Regions from separate parts of the Homo sapiens genome. Here region 2 is reported to be linked to region 1. The links are microRNA targets in miRTarBase. Many come from high-throughput screens and were not tested one by one. Region 1 holds a microRNA gene; the other region holds the end of a gene's coding sequence.
The links. Region 1 holds the annotated microRNA hsa-miR-525-5p (CUCCAGAGGGAUGCACUUUCU, at 1,190-1,210, shown strand). A microRNA usually pairs through its seed, bases 2 to 8, with sites in the 3' UTR of a target mRNA and lowers its output. Matches are read on the target gene's strand: a 7mer-m8 pairs with bases 2 to 8, a 7mer-A1 pairs with bases 2 to 7 and ends in A, and an 8mer does both.

Region 1 (4,387 bases):
TTTTTTTTGGAGAAAGAGCCTCTCTGTGTCTCCCAGGCTGGACTGCAGTGGTGTGATCTCAGCTCACTGCAACCTCAGCCTTCCAAGTAGCTGGGATTGCAGACATGTACCCCCATACCAGCTATATATATATATGTATTTTAGACACAGTTTCACCATGTTAGCCAGGCCATTCTTGAATCCTGACCTCAGGTGATTTGCCGACGTAGGCCTCCCGAAGTGCTGGGATTACAGGTATGAGCCACTGCACTCAGCCTTTTTTCCTAATTTTGAATATGGGACCCATTATGAATTTGGGTGTCACCTATGTGCGGGGGCTATGGAAATCTCTGTCACCCCATTCATTTGTGTGTGCTGTCAAAGCACCAATATGTGGGAATTATGCTTTATGTGAGCATATAGTATATGGAACTTTGGTTTTTTTTTATACAGGGTCTCAAAAAAAAATGAGTATATTTCATCACAATGTTCTGTGTATAATTCCATACACACAAAATAGTCTTCTATACACAGAGAACACTCTTATATCACTTTGGAGTTGTTTTTGTTTGTGTATTTTGTTTTAATTTTTATGAGACAGGGCCTGGCTATGTCGCTGAGGCTGGAGGGCAGTGGTGAGATCTTGGCTCACTGCAACCTCCACCTGCCACCTCAGCCTCCTGGATTAGTGTCTACAGGCAGGCACCACCACCCCTGGGTAAGTTCTGTATTTTTGGTACTGATGAGGTTTCAGCACGTTCCACAGGCTGGACTCTTAACTCCTGCGATCAAGTGATCCTCCCGCTGTTCAAATTTTACTGAGGAGCTTTTAAGGCCTCGCCTGTGGTCTGTCCTGTAGTGTCCCTGTCCTGGAACTCAAGTGAATACTTGGTTTAAAATTGATTGCTGTTCTCTAGAAATCCAGCCCAATTCTCTTGGTTAAATATAAGGTATGTGTAGTAGGCACTGCTTTTTCTTTCTGGAGGCGAAACTCAGGAGGATTGCCCCTTGATGAACAAGGCTAACCTGCTGAGCCTTTGAAGCAAGGAACTGGAGATGGTCGTTTTAGGGGTTTATGTTCTGGATTCCAGAAAACATGGAAACAGGGCCAATAAATGCATCTTTATTTTTGTGTCCATTTTAACCCAGTGAAGGAAGATTTCAACCAAAAACCCACGGTGCTGGAGCAAGAAGATCTCAAGCTGTGACTCTCCAGAGGGATGCACTTTCTCTTATGTGAAAAAAAAGAAGGCGCTTCCCTTTAGAGCGTTACGGTTTGGGTAAAGCAACGTTGAAGTTGATGCTGATCTTGGTAATATATTTGCAGAGCATGCTTATAATTAAGACTTGGATGATGGTGGGTTTCTGTTTTGTTTTTTGTTTTAAATCAGAGTCTCACTCTGTCACCCAGGCTGGAGTGCAATGGCGCAATCTCGGCTCACTGCAACTTCCCCCTCCTGGGTTCAAGTGATTCTCCTGCCTCAGCCTCCTGAGTAGTTAGGATTACAGACATGCGCCACCTCACCCGGCTCAGTTTTTGTATTTGGTGGAGATGGGGTTTCACCATGTTAGTCAGGCTGGTCTTGAACTCCTGATCTCAGGTGATCCACCTGCCTCAGCCTCCCAAAGCATTGGGATTACAGGCGTGAGCCACCACGCCAGGCCTGTTCAACATCTTAGATTTCATTTTGGATGTTCCTGTGAGGACTGCGTGTCCCTGTGCTGGAACTCAAGTGAACGCTTGGCTCAAAATCCATTGCTGTTCTCTAGAAATCCAGCCAAATTCTATTGGTGAAATATAAGGTATGTCTAGTAGTCATTGCTTTTTCTCTTTGGAGACAAAACTCAGGAGGATTGCCCCTTGATGAACAAGGCTAACCTGCTGAGCCTTTGAAACAAGGAACTGGAGATGGTCCTTTCAGGGGTTTATATTCTGGATTCCAGAAAACATGCAAACAGGGCCAGTAAATGCATCTTTATTTTTGTGTTCATTTTAACCTGGTCAAGGAAAATTGCTACAAAAAACCCAGGGTGCTGGAGCAAGAAGATCTCATGCTGTGACCCTCTAGAGGGAAGCGCTTTCTGTTGTCTGAAAGAAAAGAACGCGCTTCCCTATAGAGGGTTACCCTTTGAGAAAAGCAGCATTGAAGTTGATGCTGATCTTGCTAATACATTTGCAGAGCATGCTTATCATCAGACTTGGATGAAGGTGGGGTTCTGTTTTTTTTTTTTTTCTAAGACAGGATCTCTGTTGCCCAGGCTGGAATGTGGTGGCACTTCCAACCTAGCTCTCTTGGGCTCAAATGGTCCTCTCTTTTGGGATAGAGTCTTACTCTGTGACCCAGGCTGGAGTGCAGTGGCGTGATCTCAGCTTACTGCCACCTCCACCTCCCAGTTTCAAGCCGTTCTCCTGCCTCAGATTCCTGAGTATCTGGGATTATAGGTACCTGACACCACGCCTGGCTAATACTTGCATTTTTCTTTCTTTTTTCTTTTCTTTTTTTTTTTTTTTTTTTTGAGATGGAGTCTTACTCTGTCACCAGGCTGGAGTGCAGTGGTGCGATCTTCGCTTATTTCAACCTCCGCCTCCCAGTTTCAAGTGATTCTCCTGCCTCAGCCACCCGACTAACTAGGATTTCAGGCATGCACCACACGCCTGGCTAATTTTTTGTATTTTTAGTAGAGACAGGGTTTCACCATGTTGGTCAGGCTGGTCTCGAACTCCCGACCTCTGGTGATCTTCCCGCCTTGGCCTCCGAAAGTGCTGGGATTGCAGGCATTAGCCACCCCGCCCGGCCATTATATATTCTTATATATATAATACCATATACGTGCAAAATACTCTTCTACATGAAGAGAATACTCTTATATCACTTTGGGGTTTTTTTTGTTTGTTTGTGTGTGTGTGAGTGTATGTTTTATTTGTTTTTGGATAAGGTCTGGCTCTGTCACCCAGTCTAGAGTGCAGTTGTGCCATCTCTCTCAGCTCACTGCGACTTCTACCTCCCACCTAAGCCTGCTGAATTAGTGTCTACAGGCATGCACCACCACACCTGGCTCCGTTTTGTATTTTTTATACACATGGGCTTACACCATGTTGCCGAGACTGGTCTCGAACACCTGAGCTCAGGTGATACTTCAGTTTCAGCCTCCTAATGTGCTGGGATTAGAGGTGTGAGCCACCGTGCCCCACTTGTAGTTGTGTGTTTCTGTTCAAATTTTATTGAGGAGTTTTTAGGGCCTAGCCTGTGATCTACCCTGGAGGATGTTTGTGTGTACAACAATGTATATTCTTTAACATCGTAGATTCCATTTTGGATGCTCCCATCGGGACTGTGTGTCCCTGTGCTGGAACTCTGGTGAACACCTGGCTCAATATCCATTTCTCTTCTCTAGAAATCCAGCCCAGTTCTCTTGGTTAAATATAAGGTACATATGTCTATGAGGCATTGCTTTTGCTCTTTGAGAACAAAACTCAGGAGGATTGCTCTTTGATGAACAAAGCTAACCTGCTGATCCTTTGAAGCAAGGAACTGGAGATGGTCCTTTTAGGGGTTTATATTCTGGATTCCAGAAAACATGCAAACAGGGCCAATAAATGCATCTTTGTTTTTGTGTCCATTTTAACCGGGTGAAGGAAAATTCCAACAAAAAACCCAGAGTGTTGGAGCAAGAAGATCTCATGCTGTGACCCTCTAGAGGGAAGCACTTTCTCTTGTCTAAAAGAAAAGAAAGCGCTTCTCTTTAGAGGATTACTCTTTGAGAAAAGCAACGTTGAAGTTGATGCTTATCTTGGTAATAAATTTGCAGAGAATGCTTATAATCAGACGTGGATGATGTTGGTGTTTCATGTTTGTTTTGTTTTGTTTTTAATACAGGGTGTCTGTTGCCCAGGCTGGAGTGTGGTGGTCCCTCTCCAACCTAGATCTCTTGGGTTCAAGTGGCCCTCTTTTTTGGGTCAGAGTCTTGCTCTGTGGCCCTGGCTGGAGTGCAGTGTCAGGATCTCTGCTCACTACAACCTCTGCCTCCTGGGTAAAAGCGATTCTCCTGCCTCAGCCTCCCAAGCAACTGGGATTACAGGCATGTGCTACCATGCCCGGCTAATTTTTGTAATTTCCTTTATTTATTTTTGAGACAGAGTCTTACTCTTTCGCCCAGGCTGGAGTGCAGTGGTGCAATCTCGGCTCACTGCAACCTCCAACTCCCACCTCAGCCTCCTGAATAGCTGTCTACAGGCATGCACCACCACACCTGGCTAACTTTTGTATTTTTTGTACAGACATGGTTTCTCCATGTTGCCTGGGCTGGTCTTGAACTCCTGAACTCAAGTGATCCTCCCACCTCGGCCTCCTAAAGTGCTGTGATTAGAGGTATGAGCCACCGTGCCCCACCTGTACTTGTGTGTTTC
Region 2 (4,387 bases), not on the chromosome of region 1:
GTTAGCCTCCTAGCAGGTTACATCTACCAGGCGTTAACAAAATGGAATACAGAATTACTAATAACATGGAGGATACCACGATTAGCCAGAAGATCGGCAAAACACAATGGAAACTTGTCAGGGGCATAAACTGAACCATAGGACTAAACAGCACCTTTTTGTTGCGTCATTATATGTCAAAGAGGTTGTGGCTAAATCTTCAAACATACAGTCTACTCATTCCATAAAAAAGGTACATTTTCTTCCTTTTATTTTACTTTTTTTTTTTCAGATGAGAAACAAAAACTAGTGCAAGACCATAGCACTGTGCAAAACTGCCATTTCTTTTTTTTAGTCTGAGCATTTATACCCAGAATTTATCCAAACCCCTTTTAATCTCCTTGGCTGGATTTATCAACCATAAATTTTTTCACCCATACATTTCTTTTTCCTGCAAACAAATGGTAACCACTGAATTAATACATCTCATATATATATATAATCTGCCCTTAAAAAATGATGCACTGTGTGTGTGCACCGTACACATTTGTCTACGTGTGGGCACACACACAAAACACACTTAAGTTCTGTGATGTTAGCTGCAGTGCTGCGAGATATTTCTTCCAGATCAGTCACTTGATTCCTCGCCTCTTCATCACCAGAGAAGATCTGAGCGCAAGGTCTCCAGCGCTCTGGCGGAAATCTCCAGCAGCACTGTAGATGGCTACCATTCCTTCATCGACTAAGCACCAGGCCCTACCACTCTGTAGCCATCAAAGAGAGAGGGAAAGGTGATGAAGGAGCACAGGGAGAGACTGTCGTGGATGAACAACCCAGGAGGGAAAAGAACGTTCATCGCTGTTAAAGAAGCCAGTACAAAGAATGTGCAATAGAAATGTCATGGCACACGACACACGGCTTTCTCTTTCAGAATCCACAAACGCCCACACACCGCATTCACCCAACAGAAAACCAAATGCACCAGTATATAAGCTTACAAGTGCTGATTGCTATTAAGGACACTCTCTTTAGGGTTTAACAAGACAAGATTCCTTTCAGAGAAAAGTACGGAGAAGGGCTGAGAGTGGGAGTGGGTGGCTGGGGAGGCATGCCTCTGAAGGTAGAAGTATGCAGTAGGTCACCTCTCTGAAGATTGGATAAAGCAGCTTTCAGGTCAATGCAATAGGTATACACACAGAGCCAATTTTCTATTCCTTACTAAAGATATACAGTACACATGTTCCAGACCCATCGGGGTCTGTAGGTTTTGCAGCAACATACACCTGCTGGGGTTGTGTTTAAGTTTTGTGGTTTTTTTTTTTTTTTTTGTCTTTTGTCTCTCTGTTTTTGGTACAGAACATGGCTGCCCTCAGACAGTCTCTGCTCTTTCTCTCAGTCCGAGATAGGCCAGGAAGGAGTGTTTGGGTGAGGGGATGCTGGGAGGCGCAGTCTGAGGTCGGGGAGGGTGGAATGTGAGATCCAAGTGGTTCTTGGGGTATAACATTGTCAAGGGAATGAGATGGGCAAAATCTGAGTTCCGGTACTTGTCAAAGCGCAAAGGGGAGCCGTTGAAGGCCAAAGCCTTGAGTGCCAGGTTGGGCTCTGAGCTGCTGCCGTGGGCTGCCGACAGGGCCACGGTCTGCAGAGCCTGGGAGGCAGACATAACTGACAGGGGAGACAGGAGATTCCGGGAGCTCCCGACCACCAGGAGCGGGGCCCCCGGGCCGGCCGGTTCCTTGGGGGCTGGACACAGGCCCTTCTTGTCCTCCTCGGGGCAGTCCCCACTCTGGTGCTTCTTGACGTGGCGGCTGAAGACGAAAGGGTGTGTGGTCTTGAACAGGCACTCTTCGCAGCTGAAGGTCTGGCGTGGGGCGTGCTTCAGCTTCTTGTGCAGGTTGAGATTGTCCTTGCGCTTGCAGCTGTAGCTGCACTGGTCACAGTGGAAGGGCCGCTCCCCGGTGTGGACGCGCACGTGCTCGATGAGCTTGTTGGCGGTCTTGGACAGGTAGCCGCACTGGTCGCACTTGTAGTGGTTGCCCAGGCGGTGCTCCCGGGTGTGCGTCTCCAGCTCCAGCTGGTTGGCCTTCACCGTCTGGCAGATCCGGCACTTGTACTCCATCTTGTAGTGGGTCTTGAGGTGGCACTCCATGGCAGCGGGGCGGTTGGTGGAATAAATGCAGAATGGGCACCTGCCGGGGAAAGCAACGCAAGGGAGGTTCAGCCGGGAAGGTTCGGAGGCAGCCGCGCTTCTCGCCGCCTCACCAGCCTTCCCTCACACCACCCCCCAGTGTCTGAGGCCTGGCCTGCCCAGCCCAGCCCAGCCCTGCCGCCTCTCAGGGGTGGAACGGCCCTTTTTGGCTCTCCCTGCTGACAGAGCAGTCCCCGCTGACAAGCAGCTCTGGCAAGGTCCGCTCAGCCTATTCTGGGTCTCTTGGCCGATACAGGCAAGGCCAGCCCTCACCAAGGGGAGCAGAGAAAGTGCCAGGAATCAATTTGCTGGTGCTCCCCTCCAGCCCCCGCCCGGCCCCTCGGAGCCCTCCCCACTCCCGACCAGACAGCGCAGAGGTCTAAACCTCCTGACCTCCCCTCTAGATGGGAGCAACACAAAGAATCGACTTTTCATGCACCACACCAAGCACACGCAGAAAGGCTAAGAGGTTTTAAAGAACAGCTTATAGGGGGAGCGCTACCTCCAGCAAACAGAAAGTCACAGGGGTCAGAATCGTGCTTATTAAGGGTTTGTTAGGATGAGAAGGCCTGTGTGTGTCTCTCTGTGTGAGTGTGTGCATGTGTACATATCTATGTACTCGTAAAACATATCTCCCTACAGGACTAGCTCTTTGTCAGGAAAGGAAGCTGAGGACTATGGCAGGGGCATGGGAGGAGAAGGAAGCCCACCCAACGGCCCATCTGCTAATGAGGAAGGGAGGAGGGAGGGAGACAACTGCTATCTGGAGCTCGAAGACATTATTAATACATGATTATGCCGGAGATAGGATAATAATCCAACTGGATTGGAAATTCTCAGAGGGCAGGACCATATCTTACATTTCCTCTGCATTCTCTGCAGTGCTTGGTAGAGTACTTAACACACGGTAAGCACTCAGGACATACTGGTTCATTATTTGAGTGGTCTCTACAGGCAATTTAGGTAGATTCTGGAAGGGCGGATGCTGGTCCCAGCTCCATCACCTTGTCAGGCTGGAGCTGGACACCCTAGCCTGGGCCTCTCTGTGGCTCGGTTTCTCCATCCTTTGCAGTGAGGCTACGCTACCACCAACCCTCCTGGCTGTCCAGAGGGGCCACGAGGAGTGGTGAGGCCATGTTAACAAACTCTGCTGAGCCTCTCTTTTAGAAGCTGCCAGGCTGGAGTCAGTGGCTTATATGAGAACTGTAGTGTGTTTGCTCTCTTTCCACAAAGAATGCAGATGCAAAAGTGGCTGCCTCAGCTCTTGCTTGGCTCCTGCAGGGCAGGGCTCAGGAGTGGACTGTCCTCGGAGGGTCTGGAGAGGTGTTCAGCAGAGCCCAACACAACCAAGTGCACCGTGCACGGCCTCCTCAGCGCCAAGCTCGCCGTTAGCCTTTGAACCTCAGCTCACAGAAGAGTGCACACGAGAGAAATATAAAGCCCATTCCCAGGTCAGGTGCACACACAACCCCTACGCCAAGCTGGGCCTTACCTAGAGGAGTCTGAAACTCACCACTGTCCTGAGCTACGGCAAAAGAAAAATAATAGTATAATCTTATTTGATCTGCATTATGAACAGGATATAGAGTACAAGCAGTTCCATCACAGAAAAGCAATTTAGACATCAGCAGTCTGTTTCATTTTAAGGACATTTCTGTGACCCACAGCTCAATCTTTCTTTCACTGCTCAGGCAAAGTGCTAAGGGTTTTCCGTGCTCCCGTTATTTTCTTAAAGACACTCTCTCAGGCAAATTAATTCTCTGATATGGCAAAGGAAACAAAACAAAACAAAACAAAGACTCACTGTATAGCCAGAAGGCATTATCAATTTTTTCAAAGTATTCTTCTACTTGGTCATCCTAGAACATAAACTATTACACAGGGGACGGTTAGCACCGCACGGGAAGTGTCTGTACCAGCAAAAGCATCAGAATTCACTGTGCATTCTCCCCAATGGCTTCAGAGGCTGGGGACTTTGGAGGTCCCTGAGGAAAGGCGAACTGGCAAAGCCACAACTGGCAGGGGCTGCAATGTTCATGGGTGTGACTGGGCTACTGGGAAGGGCAGTGAGCACTGGTCCAACCACAGAAAAACATGGTTCTGGTGTTTCTCTTTTTAAAATGAGAGCACACAAATATTTATAAAGGGACAGTGGGAACAAACCAAATCAAATCCCCAAATAAGCTCTTCCTAGGCATTTCCCATCTACTGGTTTCCTTG

Region 2: the mRNA of ZNF827 is a reported target of hsa-miR-525-5p. Seed matches in the 3' UTR shown: 7mer-A1 at 1,220-1,226 and 7mer-A1 at 601-607.

The regions. Positions count from the first base shown.
Region 1 is chr19:53,696,358-53,700,744 of GRCh38, forward strand. It overlaps MIR525 (microRNA 525), which reads left to right and starts at 1,176; the gene lies at 1,176-1,260. It overlaps MIR523 (microRNA 523), which reads left to right and starts at 2,028; the gene lies at 2,028-2,114. MIR518F (microRNA 518f) reads left to right here and starts at 3,658; the gene lies at 3,658-3,744. It overlaps LOC107985346 (a long non-coding RNA gene), which reads left to right and starts at 4,313. Exons shown (of 5, transcript XR_001753998.1): 1 at 4,313-4,349.
Region 2 is chr4:145,759,431-145,763,817 of GRCh38, forward strand. It overlaps ZNF827 (zinc finger protein 827), which reads right to left. Exons shown (of 15, transcript NM_001306215.2): 14 at 3,660-3,692; 15 at 1-2,168. The coding sequence ends at 3,677. It also overlaps a transcript of C4orf51 not described here. Among named protein-coding and RNA genes, the nearest start is that of C4orf51, 81 kb to the left of the region's middle. RefSeq lists enhancers at 2,993-3,494, 3,495-3,994.